Regions from separate parts of the Homo sapiens genome. Here region 1 is linked to region 2. Evidence: fine-mapped expression QTL. A gene starts in region 2. The other region holds a variant in brackets. All regions are shown on one strand. Distances are from middle to middle.

Evidence for each region. PIP is the estimated chance that this variant, and not a neighbour inherited with it, causes the effect. A credible set is the group of variants that fine-mapping cannot tell apart.
Region 1: its variant is the best candidate, but not a certain one, in a credible set for the expression of CD247 in whole blood (INTERVAL, PIP 0.78).

Annotation. Positions count from the first base shown.
Region 1 is chr1:167,486,691-167,491,690 of GRCh38, forward strand. All of the region lies in intron 1 of CD247 (CD247 molecule), which reads right to left. Among named protein-coding and RNA genes, the nearest start is that of CD247, 29 kb to the right of the region's middle. The variant G/A (reference allele first, on the strand shown) is at 2,165.
Region 2 is chr1:167,516,430-167,521,920 of GRCh38, forward strand. It overlaps CD247 (CD247 molecule), which reads right to left and starts at 2,100. Exons shown (of 8, transcript NM_198053.3): 1 at 1,979-2,100. The coding sequence starts at 2,036. It also overlaps the pseudogene AKR1D1P1. RefSeq lists enhancers at 497-1,460, 732-1,931.

The sequences.
Region 1 (5,000 bases), 30 kb before region 2:
GAGAAACCCCCTGCAACCCCCAGGAAAGAGCTCTGGCCACTTATGCGGGCCACTGCAAGCTGCTCTGATACCTCTGTGTGAGTTAGAAATGGCAGCTCTGGGTGGGCATGGTGGCTCGTGCCTATGTAATCCCAGCACTTTGGAAGACCGAGGTGGGTGGATCACCTGAGGTCAGGAGTTCAAGACCAGTCTGGCCAAGATGGTGCAACCCCGTCTCTACTAAAAACACAAAAATTAGCCAGGCGTGGTGGAGGGTGCCTGTAATCCCAGCTACTTGGGAGGCTGAGGCAGGAGAATCACTTGAACCCCAGAGATGGAGGTTGCAGTGAGTCGAGATCATGCCACTGCACTCCAGCCTGGGTGACAGAGCAAGACTCCATTTCAAAAAAAAAAAAAGGAAGAAAACGGCCGGGTGTGATGGTTCACATCTATAATTCCAGCACTTTGGGAGGCCGAGGTGTGTGGATCACGGGGTCAGGAGTTCAAGACCAGCCTGGCCAAGATGGTGCAACCCCATCTCTACTAAAAATACAAAAATTAGCCAGGCATGGTGGTGGGCGCCTGTAATCCCAGCTACTTGGGAGGTTCAGGCAGAGAATCGCTTGAATTCGGGAGGTGGAGGTTGCAGTGAGCCGAGATCGTGCCACTGCACTCCAGCCTGAGAGATAGAGTGAGATTCCATCTAAAACAAACAAAAGAAAAAACGAAGAAAGAAAAGGCAGCTCCATGGCAGGCAGGTTCAGGCCAGCTGATGCCCCTTCCTCCAGGTGGGCATCCCTGGACCCACACTGCCAGGGAGCAGGTACAGGCAAGTCCCAGGACCCACTGGCAGCCTCAGCCTGGCACCTCCATCCAATGCTTAAACCGCATAACCTTACTGGAGGCACTGACCAAAGTAGGCTCCGATCTCAGTCTATGAGGCAGGCACAACCCACCATTCCAACAACACTAATTGAGTGCCATTTCATGACACAACAGCATTATCAAAAAGAATGAGTACCAGGCTAGCAGTGAGAAGTGTGGGTCCTACTCCCACCACACTACCTTGTTTTTTTCGAGACAGGGTCTCACTGTGTTGTCCAGGCTGGAGTGCAGTGGCACACGATCACTGTGCACTGTGGCCTCAAATTCCTGGGCTCAATCAATCCTTCTGCCTCAGCCTCCTGAGTAGCTGGGATTACAAGTATCTACCACCACATCTGACTAATTTATTTTTAGAATTTTTTTTGTAGAGATGGGGGTCTCACTATGTTGCCCAGGTCAGTATTGAACTCATGGCCTCAAGCAGTCTTCCCCACTCGGCCCCCAAAGGGCTGGGATTGCAAGCATGAGCCACTGTGTGCCAGCCCCACAATACTACTTTCTAGCTGTGTTCCCCTGAGGAACTCATTCAAACTCAGTTTCTCCAGCTATCACATGGAAATAACAATTGTTACCCCAAAAGGTTTGTTAAAGGCACAAATGAGATGATAATATGAGCACTCTATTGTAAAGTGGAAATCAGGATACAGCTATAAGAGATGATGATCATACATTCTAAGAAAATTTTGAAGATAATTTTACTGCTAAGATGTGTTAAAGAAAAATAATTCAATGATACCTGTTAAAGCACAGTAAGGCAGACTTCATTCAAAACTGTCATGATAGGTAGAAGGATGATTGCAATGGGGTCTTGCAGTGGGACAGAAAGATTGGGCTCAACTCCAAGTACAGCAAGTGGGCATTTATGCCAAGGAGCAGAGTAGGGGGTCAATGGATAGAAAATTCCCAAAAAGAGTGAGAGGGATTCTGGCTAAACCAACCTAACAGGACTCTAGCTGAACACAGGCCAGGGGGATCAGACCTCACCTGGGGGATGGAGTGGGATGAGGACCCTGATCAGACACTGAGGGGAACCGGATATTGAAGGTTGATGGTTGTGCTCAACTAACTGGGCAGAGTTCTTTGCTAAACCTGGATTTTGCAAGAAAGTACACAGATGGGCCTAGGAGAAAGTTTGGAAGCCTGATTAAGTTTTTGTCAAGCAGGGAATCTTTAGCAGTTGACATAATGACAATATTGAGAGATTTTTGAAAAATATTCTCTCTGATGGAGCCCAACAAGTATTTCCCTTTCTGCATGTGCGTGCGTGTTTTTATGTCACGTACGTGAGTATGTTCTTGTA[G/A]CTCAGACAGCTCCGAATAAAAACCCAGGGAAGCGAGGGTGTGCTGAGCCCAGGGAGGGCCTGCCAGGAGGGTTTTCTGAAGGATGGCTGTGGGCCGGGCCTCTTCTGAGAGGGCTGAGGGCAGCTGCTTCCCTTGCCGTTTGATTCATTAGTCCACACCTCGTGGAGAGGTAACTTGAAAGGCAGCGCCGAGAAGCACGTAATGGATTTGTGAGGTTTTAACACCGGACAGCAGACAAAAGACTAATAAAAATCCGGGGCAGGAATTTCCCAAGAGGGAAGTGTCACAGTGGAATAAAAATGAAAGAGATAAAGGAGAGTTCCTAGAAGGATCCAACCCCCCTTCCCCACCCCAAACTCTGCTTATAGGTTCTTATATGATAATTTAAACTATATATGATATTAAATTAGCACTCCAATAGCAAAAATAAAAGTGTTCCCACATCACCTTCTTTGAAAATATTTATTTAAATAGGATGAAATGTTATTGAGGGCTTTTGTGTCTAGAAACAGGGTTAATTAAAGATTTCCTGCCTGCTTTGTGGGTAGGTGACACTCTCATTGAGATAGCAGCAATGCCCTATTTAGTGGTCTCTCAGCTTTCTTTCTATTCATCTGGTTTGGTAGTGGAATTCCATGGGAAGTTTGACCCTATTCAGTGATGAGAGAAGCAAAATACTGTTGTTCACCTAGAGGCTGTTTGCTCAGAAAAACAGGGTGTCAGAGACATGGGACGCAAACCCAGAGTGACATAGCGCAGGGACTTGGCTCACTTTTCTGAGATCTGTAAAATGTGATGTGACTGGCTCTCAGAAAGGAGGCTGAAGGGTTCCTGCCCGATTGGTTTTCAAAGGGCAAGAGCCCCGCTGCTGAGGAGCTGCGGCTTTGTTAGACAAAAGCCCAGGGCAGCCCCCTCCTGGGCTCAGCGTTTTCCCCACCTCCCCCTTTCTCACAGGCGGTTTCCCTGAAATGAAAGAACTGTGATGCATTTGCGCCTTCAAAAGCAGTTTTTAAAATGCATTAAACCCAAGATTGAATACCACCCAGTTCGGCCTCTGACCTGTGCCCGCGCCGAGGTTTCTGGGCAGCCAGGCCCAGGGAGGAAGCTGGCCTTTTGGCCCCAGGAGGCAGAGCCAGTTTAGCTGCCTGTGCCCCCCCACCACCCCACCCCTTTTTTTGACCTTCTGGCCCAAATAGGGAACTGTGGAGCGCTCATCTTTGTGTCCTTGCTAGTACACAGCCTCCCTGTGAAAGCAAGCAATGTCCCCAAGCAAATCCATATATCCGGGACCTACGGCGGCGGAAAGATCGGGTGCATTTGGAAGGCACGGGGCCTGGCCTCACATTTCCAAAAGCAGTATTCCAGACTCTGCCTGCAAAGCTTCTCCACCTTCCCCGTCATCTGACCTCATCTTTCTTAATTTTTCTTCTCTCATTCTTTCTATCTTCCCCTCTCTATCTCTTTCTTCCTTTAGAAATTATATTTGAGGCCGGGCGCGGTGGCTCACGCCTGTAAGCCCAGCACTTTGGGAGGCCGAGTTGGGTGGATCACGAGGTCAGGAGTTTGAGACCATCCTGGCCAACATGGTGAAACCCCATCTCTACTAAAAATACAAAAATTAGCTGGGCTTGGTGGCGCACGCCTGTAGTCCCAGCTACTCCGGAGGCTGAGGCAGGAGAATCCCTTGAACCTGCGAGGCGGAGGTTGCAGCGAGCCGAGATCGCGCCACTGCACTCCAGCCTGGGCAACAAGAGCGAGTCTCCGTCTCAAAAAAGAAAAAAAAATTATTTTTGAAGGTCGGGTACAGTGACTCACGCCTGTAATCCCAGCCCTTTGGGAGGCTGAGACGGGCAGATCACTTGAGGTCAGGAATTCGAGACCAGCCTTCGTCTCTACTAAAAATACAAAAATTAGCCTGGTGGGGTGGTGGGTGCCTATAATTCCAGCTACTCAGGACGCTGAAGCAGGAGAATCGTTTGAACATGGGCAGGAGAACTGTTTGAACATGGGAGGCCGAGATTGCAGTGAGCTGAGATCACACCACTACATTCCAGTCTGGGTTGACAGAGCAAGACTCTGTCTCAAAATAATAATAAATAATAATAATAATAATAAATAAAAAGAAATTATCTTTGAAAGAACTCATATAAGCAGGCTAAAATTAATTTGTTAATTTGTCACATTTAAAATAGTCTATTTTATTCTATATTTACAATTTTTGAAATCCTAGTTTTGGCACGTCTTGCCTCTTAAAAAATTTATATCACCCTTTACTCGTTGGAATGGCTACTTGTTTAAAAAACAGAAAATCACAAGTGTTGGTGAGGATGTGGAGAAGGAATGCCGTGCACTGTGGGCGGAAAGGTAAAATGGTACAGCTGTTGTGGAAAACGGTTTGGTGGTTCCTCAGAAAGTTAAAAATAGAACTACTGGCCGGGCGCAGTGGCTCATGCCTGTAATCCCAGCACTTTGGGAGGCCAAGGCGAGTGGATCACCTGAGGTCGGGAGTTCGAGACCAGCCTGACCAACATGGAGAAACCCTGTCTCTACTAAAAATACAAAATTAGCCGGACATGGTGGCCCATGCCTGTAATCCCAGCTACTCGGGAGGCTGAGGCAAGAGAATTGCTTGAAGCCAGGAAGGGAGGTTGCAGTGAGCCAAGATCATGCCATTGCACTCCAGCCTGGGCAACAAGAGCGAAACTCCATCTCAAAAAAAAAAAAAATAGAACTATCATATGGTCTAGCAATTCTACTTCTGGTTCTATACCCAAAAGAATTGAAAGCAGGGTCTTTAAGAGATATTTGTGCACCCATGTTTATAGCAGCACTGTT
Region 2 (5,491 bases):
ACAGCTTAGTAAAAAGTAGACATTTTAAAAGGGATGTATGCAATGGGTCACTTAACTGAGCAAGAAAAGAGAGAAGACCTGACTGAAATTCTATGTGCGGCCTTTCCTCCGGGGAGACTGTGGAGGTGTCCCCTCAGGCAGCAAAAGCACCATCGCAGCCCTCGGTGTCAAGGCCTCTCTGAGTCGCGCTTTGCCTTACCGTACCTCGTTTCTGGGCTAGGATATTTTGAAACACTTTTGTCTATTAGCTTTATCTAAAATAGCTAAAATATCAGTCTCCATAGAGGCAAAGTAAGTGGCACTGAGAAGCAAAAAATCCAGCCAATGTGCAGTTTTCTCCTCCTGCCCCCTATTTGTGGAAATGAGGCACGGCCCCCATCTTGTCTGCTGGGTGGGGTTCTGTTTACCACGCTTGGCAGCCACCGCCACCCAACAATCTTTCATTTTTCTTTCTAACTTCACTTTGCCCCTACCTTGGTCTCTCCAAGCCGAACACAAATGGACCAGTGAGGAAACTGCAGGTAAAGACCCTGAAAGGTTATATGAGCTCCCTGGTGTGGTGTCTCAAGCCTGAAGCTCAGAGGCTGGAGCTATTGCCCCTGGCTGTCTCCCCTGAAGTCACTAAATTCCAGCGTTCTGGGTCCCCTTGTCCCCAGCACACAAGGATGGGCTGCTCTGAGCAAGCTCAGGCACCCTCACTCTGCCACACTGTGTGTGTGACTTAGACCCCACAAGGCTTTTCTGAGAAAACAGCTGTGACCTGACAGAAACCCCTGCAGCTGCACGGGCCTCAGAATCCCCCGAGGCGCTGGCCCGGGCTGTGCCTGGCTCCCTGGTGGGAGCAGAAGTGCCCATGGCCTCTCCTGCCCTCCCAACAGGGCCCCTAAACAAATTCCCACACCCAGGTGAGTTACCAGGAGCGATCAGGTGGGCCGAGGACATTTGCTTGCTTCACCTTCCCTGTTTCTTTAGATTGAAATTCAGCCTGCCCCACTTCTCAGGAAGATGCCACGAGGCTGATCCCCCTGAGCAGTTTGTCCTGTCCTCTTTTCACTGGTTTTCTTCCTCATTACCTGGGCTAGAAAACATGGTGGAAGCTAAAGGCTTGCAGCAAAGCTGGGCTCCCACGATCGGGAATGAGGTGAGGAGCAAGCACTCTTGTTGGCTGGGCGCTGCTCGTGGTGGTGACTTAACCAGGCACATCGTCTCATCTGCCCCGTGTTCTGTCAATGCCGGGCCCTCTGGCTGGGCTAGATGGCCGCCTAAGGGGCAGGCTGGGGTGAGTCACGGAGCCTGGGATGGTGCGTCACCCGGCAGTCCCAGGCGTGGGTGTGGGGACAGCCATGACAAGGCTGAGCCTAGACACGGACGCTTGGCCATGAGGTGGCGAAGGCGCTGTGGAGGCTGCCACCCGGTGCTTCCTGCCTGTGCCCCTCTCCTCCTTGGTTACCCCACTTACTCCCGGGCCCATTGGAGTGTTTCAGGCCATGACCTTGACTGACCAACAAAATCTTCTTTGTTGGCAAAGGAAGAAAGAAAGGGGCTGAGTGACGGAGCCAGCCAGAGGGTGAAAGAAGCTGAAGGGACTAGAACGTCGCAGCACGAAACATGGCCTGGCTGACATTTTCCGATCCTGTCCAGCTTCTGTGAAACACTCCCTCTCCGTTTCTCTACCCTGGGCCTGCCTCGGTTGCTCTCTTGCTTCCTTCTTCCTTCCTCTCTTATCACTCGAAAAATCTGTACCTGGAGGAGCTGTGTATTCTAGCAGCTGGCTCTGAACTGATGCCCAACTCGGCTGTGACGGAGCAGATGCCAGCACCGGGCCGGACCCCTCACTGCTCACTTGCCCATTGATTTGAGGAGGGCAGGATTTGAAGGAGACCCCAGCCCCTCACCACCCTCCACTACCCACACCCACTCCCCTACACATACACAAAGAGTTTCTAGAAGTTCCCTGCCGTCGACACGTCGGCCCTACCTGTAATCGGCAACTGTGCCTGCAGGATGGCCGCGGTGAAAAGCGCCTTCCACTTCATCTTGTCCTTTCCCTCAGAAAGAGGCTGGGAGGCAGAGGCTGAGGCAGCGGTGGCCGGGACGGTTAGGAGAAAAGGAGTCTCTGCTGGTTTTATTCTGCAGCTACCTCCCCAGGAAGTGGAGGACTGTGGGGCCTTTGAGAAAGCACCTGCCGACAGGGCCAAGAAATTCGCACTCCCCCTTTCGGTTCACAGGCAGGAAGCCCTGGAGGTTTGAGGGTTTGGGGTGTGTGTATGTATCTGTCTGTCTGAATTTTGCTTTTTCTCTCATTTGACCATTGTTTTAATGCTCCTTTTTTTAAAAAAAATAATTCTTATCTAATTCCTATCTTGATTGGTAAAGTCCATCTCTAGGCAAATACAAGTTCTCGATGGATGTAAGAACATTTGCTGTTTTCCTAGACTGTCAAATATTTTATGGTGGCTGGCAAAATGACAGAACCCTGGATTAGAGTCCAGGACAAATGTAGAGACAGATTCCTTGGGCTTTAGTGACATCTCTGCCTACCACCTACTTGCTGTGTGGCGTTGAGTCAGTCACTCAACATCTCTAGACTTCAGCTTCCTTATCTATAAAGCAAAGAGCTGGAGTAGATCTGAGGTTGCAGATCTGAACTTGGCCTGAATTTGGATCATTGTGTGAAATACTGTAGCTCACATAGTATTTTAAACACTTGTGTTAGTTGTCAACATTTAAACACCAGAGTAATTTACAATAATAAAACATTAAAACCTAGACATAAACTTCGTCTAAAAATTGTAATATATCTATATGAAACAAACTTTAAAACATTGCTGAAGAACGCCGAAAGGACTTGGGTAAATGGAAAGGCATACCCTTCTTTGATAGGAAGCTCTCTTTTAAGGAGACCACCATTCTCTCTTAATTAATCAATCTATTTCATTGAAAATACCAACAAAAAGTTTTAGAACAAGTTAAGCTGATTCCAAAATTGATATGAAAAAAATTAATGTACAAGAATAGCCAATAATCCAAAGTCACAGCAATCCAACATAAAATTGATAAATTGGACTTCATCACAATTAAAAGTTTTTGTGCATCAAAGGACACTATGAAGAAAGTGAGTCCTGCAAATCACCGCATACCTCTAAGTGATGGAAACAGCATTCCCATCATCAGACTTGGTACCTACTCAGAGCCTAAATTGACCCCTAAGGGGGCCGATGACTTACTCAAGGCCACACAGCAAGTAGGTGGTAGGTAGAGATGTCACTACAGCCCAAGTAGTCTGTCTCTACATTTAGTCTGAGTCTTCATCAGTGAAGGTTGTCATTGGTCTGGGGTGCTGACACACTGATGAAGCCTACATATACCAAAATGAAGACACAGCTGGGGAGGCCATCAGGGGGAAAATAGCAGAAGGAAAGGTGCAGAGGAAGGATATCTTCTACTGTGGAAAACTGTGGGCTACAAATCACAACCCAGAGCTGGTCTGCCCGAGCCTAGAGAGGATGCTCAAGGTCCTCCAGCTAGATTGTGTGGATCTTTACATCACTGAAATACCCATGGCCGCTAAGCCAGAAGACAAAATCTACCCTATAGGTGAGAATGGCAAATGGTTATATCACAAGTCAAATCTGTGTGCCACTTGGGAGACTTCGGAAGCTTGTAAAGATGCTGGCTTGGTGAAATCCCTCGGAGTATCCAGTTTTAACAGCAGGCCAGCTGGAGCTCATCCAGAACAACCCAGGACTCAAACCCAAGCCAGTCAGCAACGAGGTTGAGTGCCACCCATATTACACCCAACCAAAACTTTTGAAATTTCGCCAACAACATGACATTGTCATGATTGCATATAGCCCTTTGGGGACCACTAGGAATCCAACCTGGACAAATATGTCTTCTCTGCCTTCGTTAAAGGATGCACTTCTAAAAAGGTGCAATAAGATCACAGCTCAAGTTATTTTGCGTTTCAACATCCAGCAAGGGGTGGTTGTCATTCCTAAAAGCTTTAATCCTGAAAAGATCAAGGAAAACCTTCAGGCCTTTGACTTTTCTCTCACTGAATCAAGGACATTGAAGCCTGGAGTGAAAATGTCCGCTTCATAGAAATGCTCATGTGGTGTGATCATCCCAAATACCCATTTCTTGATGAATACTGACTTCAGAGAGTTCCTGAACAGATTCTCCCCTCCCACGTGTGGAGGACCTTAGGGTGCATAGTTCCCCATGGACACGGAAATGAAAGAGGTTTTATTATCTGAAAAGTGGTGATGGAAACATGCTTAACTTTTGTATAGTGTAAGTGATTTTAACTCACCCATGTTAAAGACAAAATGTTTAAATCTGTTGAAATTCTTAGGAAATTATCACCTAATATTTTATTAGATAAATGTCTTCTGGGTTCCAGACCAAAAACAAAACAAAACAAACAAACAAACAAAAAACAATTAGATTCCAGAAAAGACTTGAAAGGCAACAGATGACAACCAGCAACAAGTAACTCATGAATGTGGGTAGTAACATTGTTAGCCTGAGTTCTTTAGCAGTCAACAGGACAACAAAGACAGCAGAGGGCCCCCATGTGCCAGGGTGCTGGCAGTGGCCTTGAGGACTTGAACCATTGACTGCAATACAGACACAGCCAAGATAAGATCCAGACATGCATTATTAACAAAAAAGTGATTTGCTGCACCTTGAGTAGGGAGAGAGGGCTAAGTGTAGAAAAGTCTTAAAATAGAGTCAATTAAACACCACAGTGATCAACAAAGCCATAAGGATTTTATTGTTGTTTGTTTCTATCCGATGTATGTTTGTTTAGCTTTTACTCAGCTTGAAGGATGCATACTTGCTGGTTCTCTTTTGCATCCTCAGAGGGTCTGAGTTTCAACATAACTAGTGGTCCATACTTACATTGTCTTATATTCACTCTTGCCACATTGATCATCGAATCACCATTACGTGAAGTGGCTTGAAACAACCAACATACATAAATAAAACTCTGCATCATAAAGTATTCCAAAGACGGCTATTTTAAAACAAGACATTTTATAAGGGGACTTTAGGAGACATATTGAAAGAAGAGGCTTTATAAAAGTACTATGCTTAAGTCTTTAAGAGTGTTATTGGGATAGCTATGTGAATTTTGAGAAAATAGCACGTTCAAAAGAACACTGGTAATTGTACTCTATGTAAATTTTTAAAGAGAATAAAATTATTAGAATTCAACAACAGAGATGTACCTATTTTCAGTTCAACTACAGAAATATATTTTATTCATTCATATTAGATCACTCTCACAGGGCAAGAGAGTTCTTCAAAAATTATGCTTTTCCAAGACCAATTGCTTATAGATAATCTTCAATGACCTGTACACATACATTTCTGAGAAAGTATCACTTAAAAACTTGATCTATACTGATTGTTTTCACTGATTCCGATGTTAATACTTACAATGCTTGTCCTCTAGACAATACTTTGTTCACAAGAAATCATG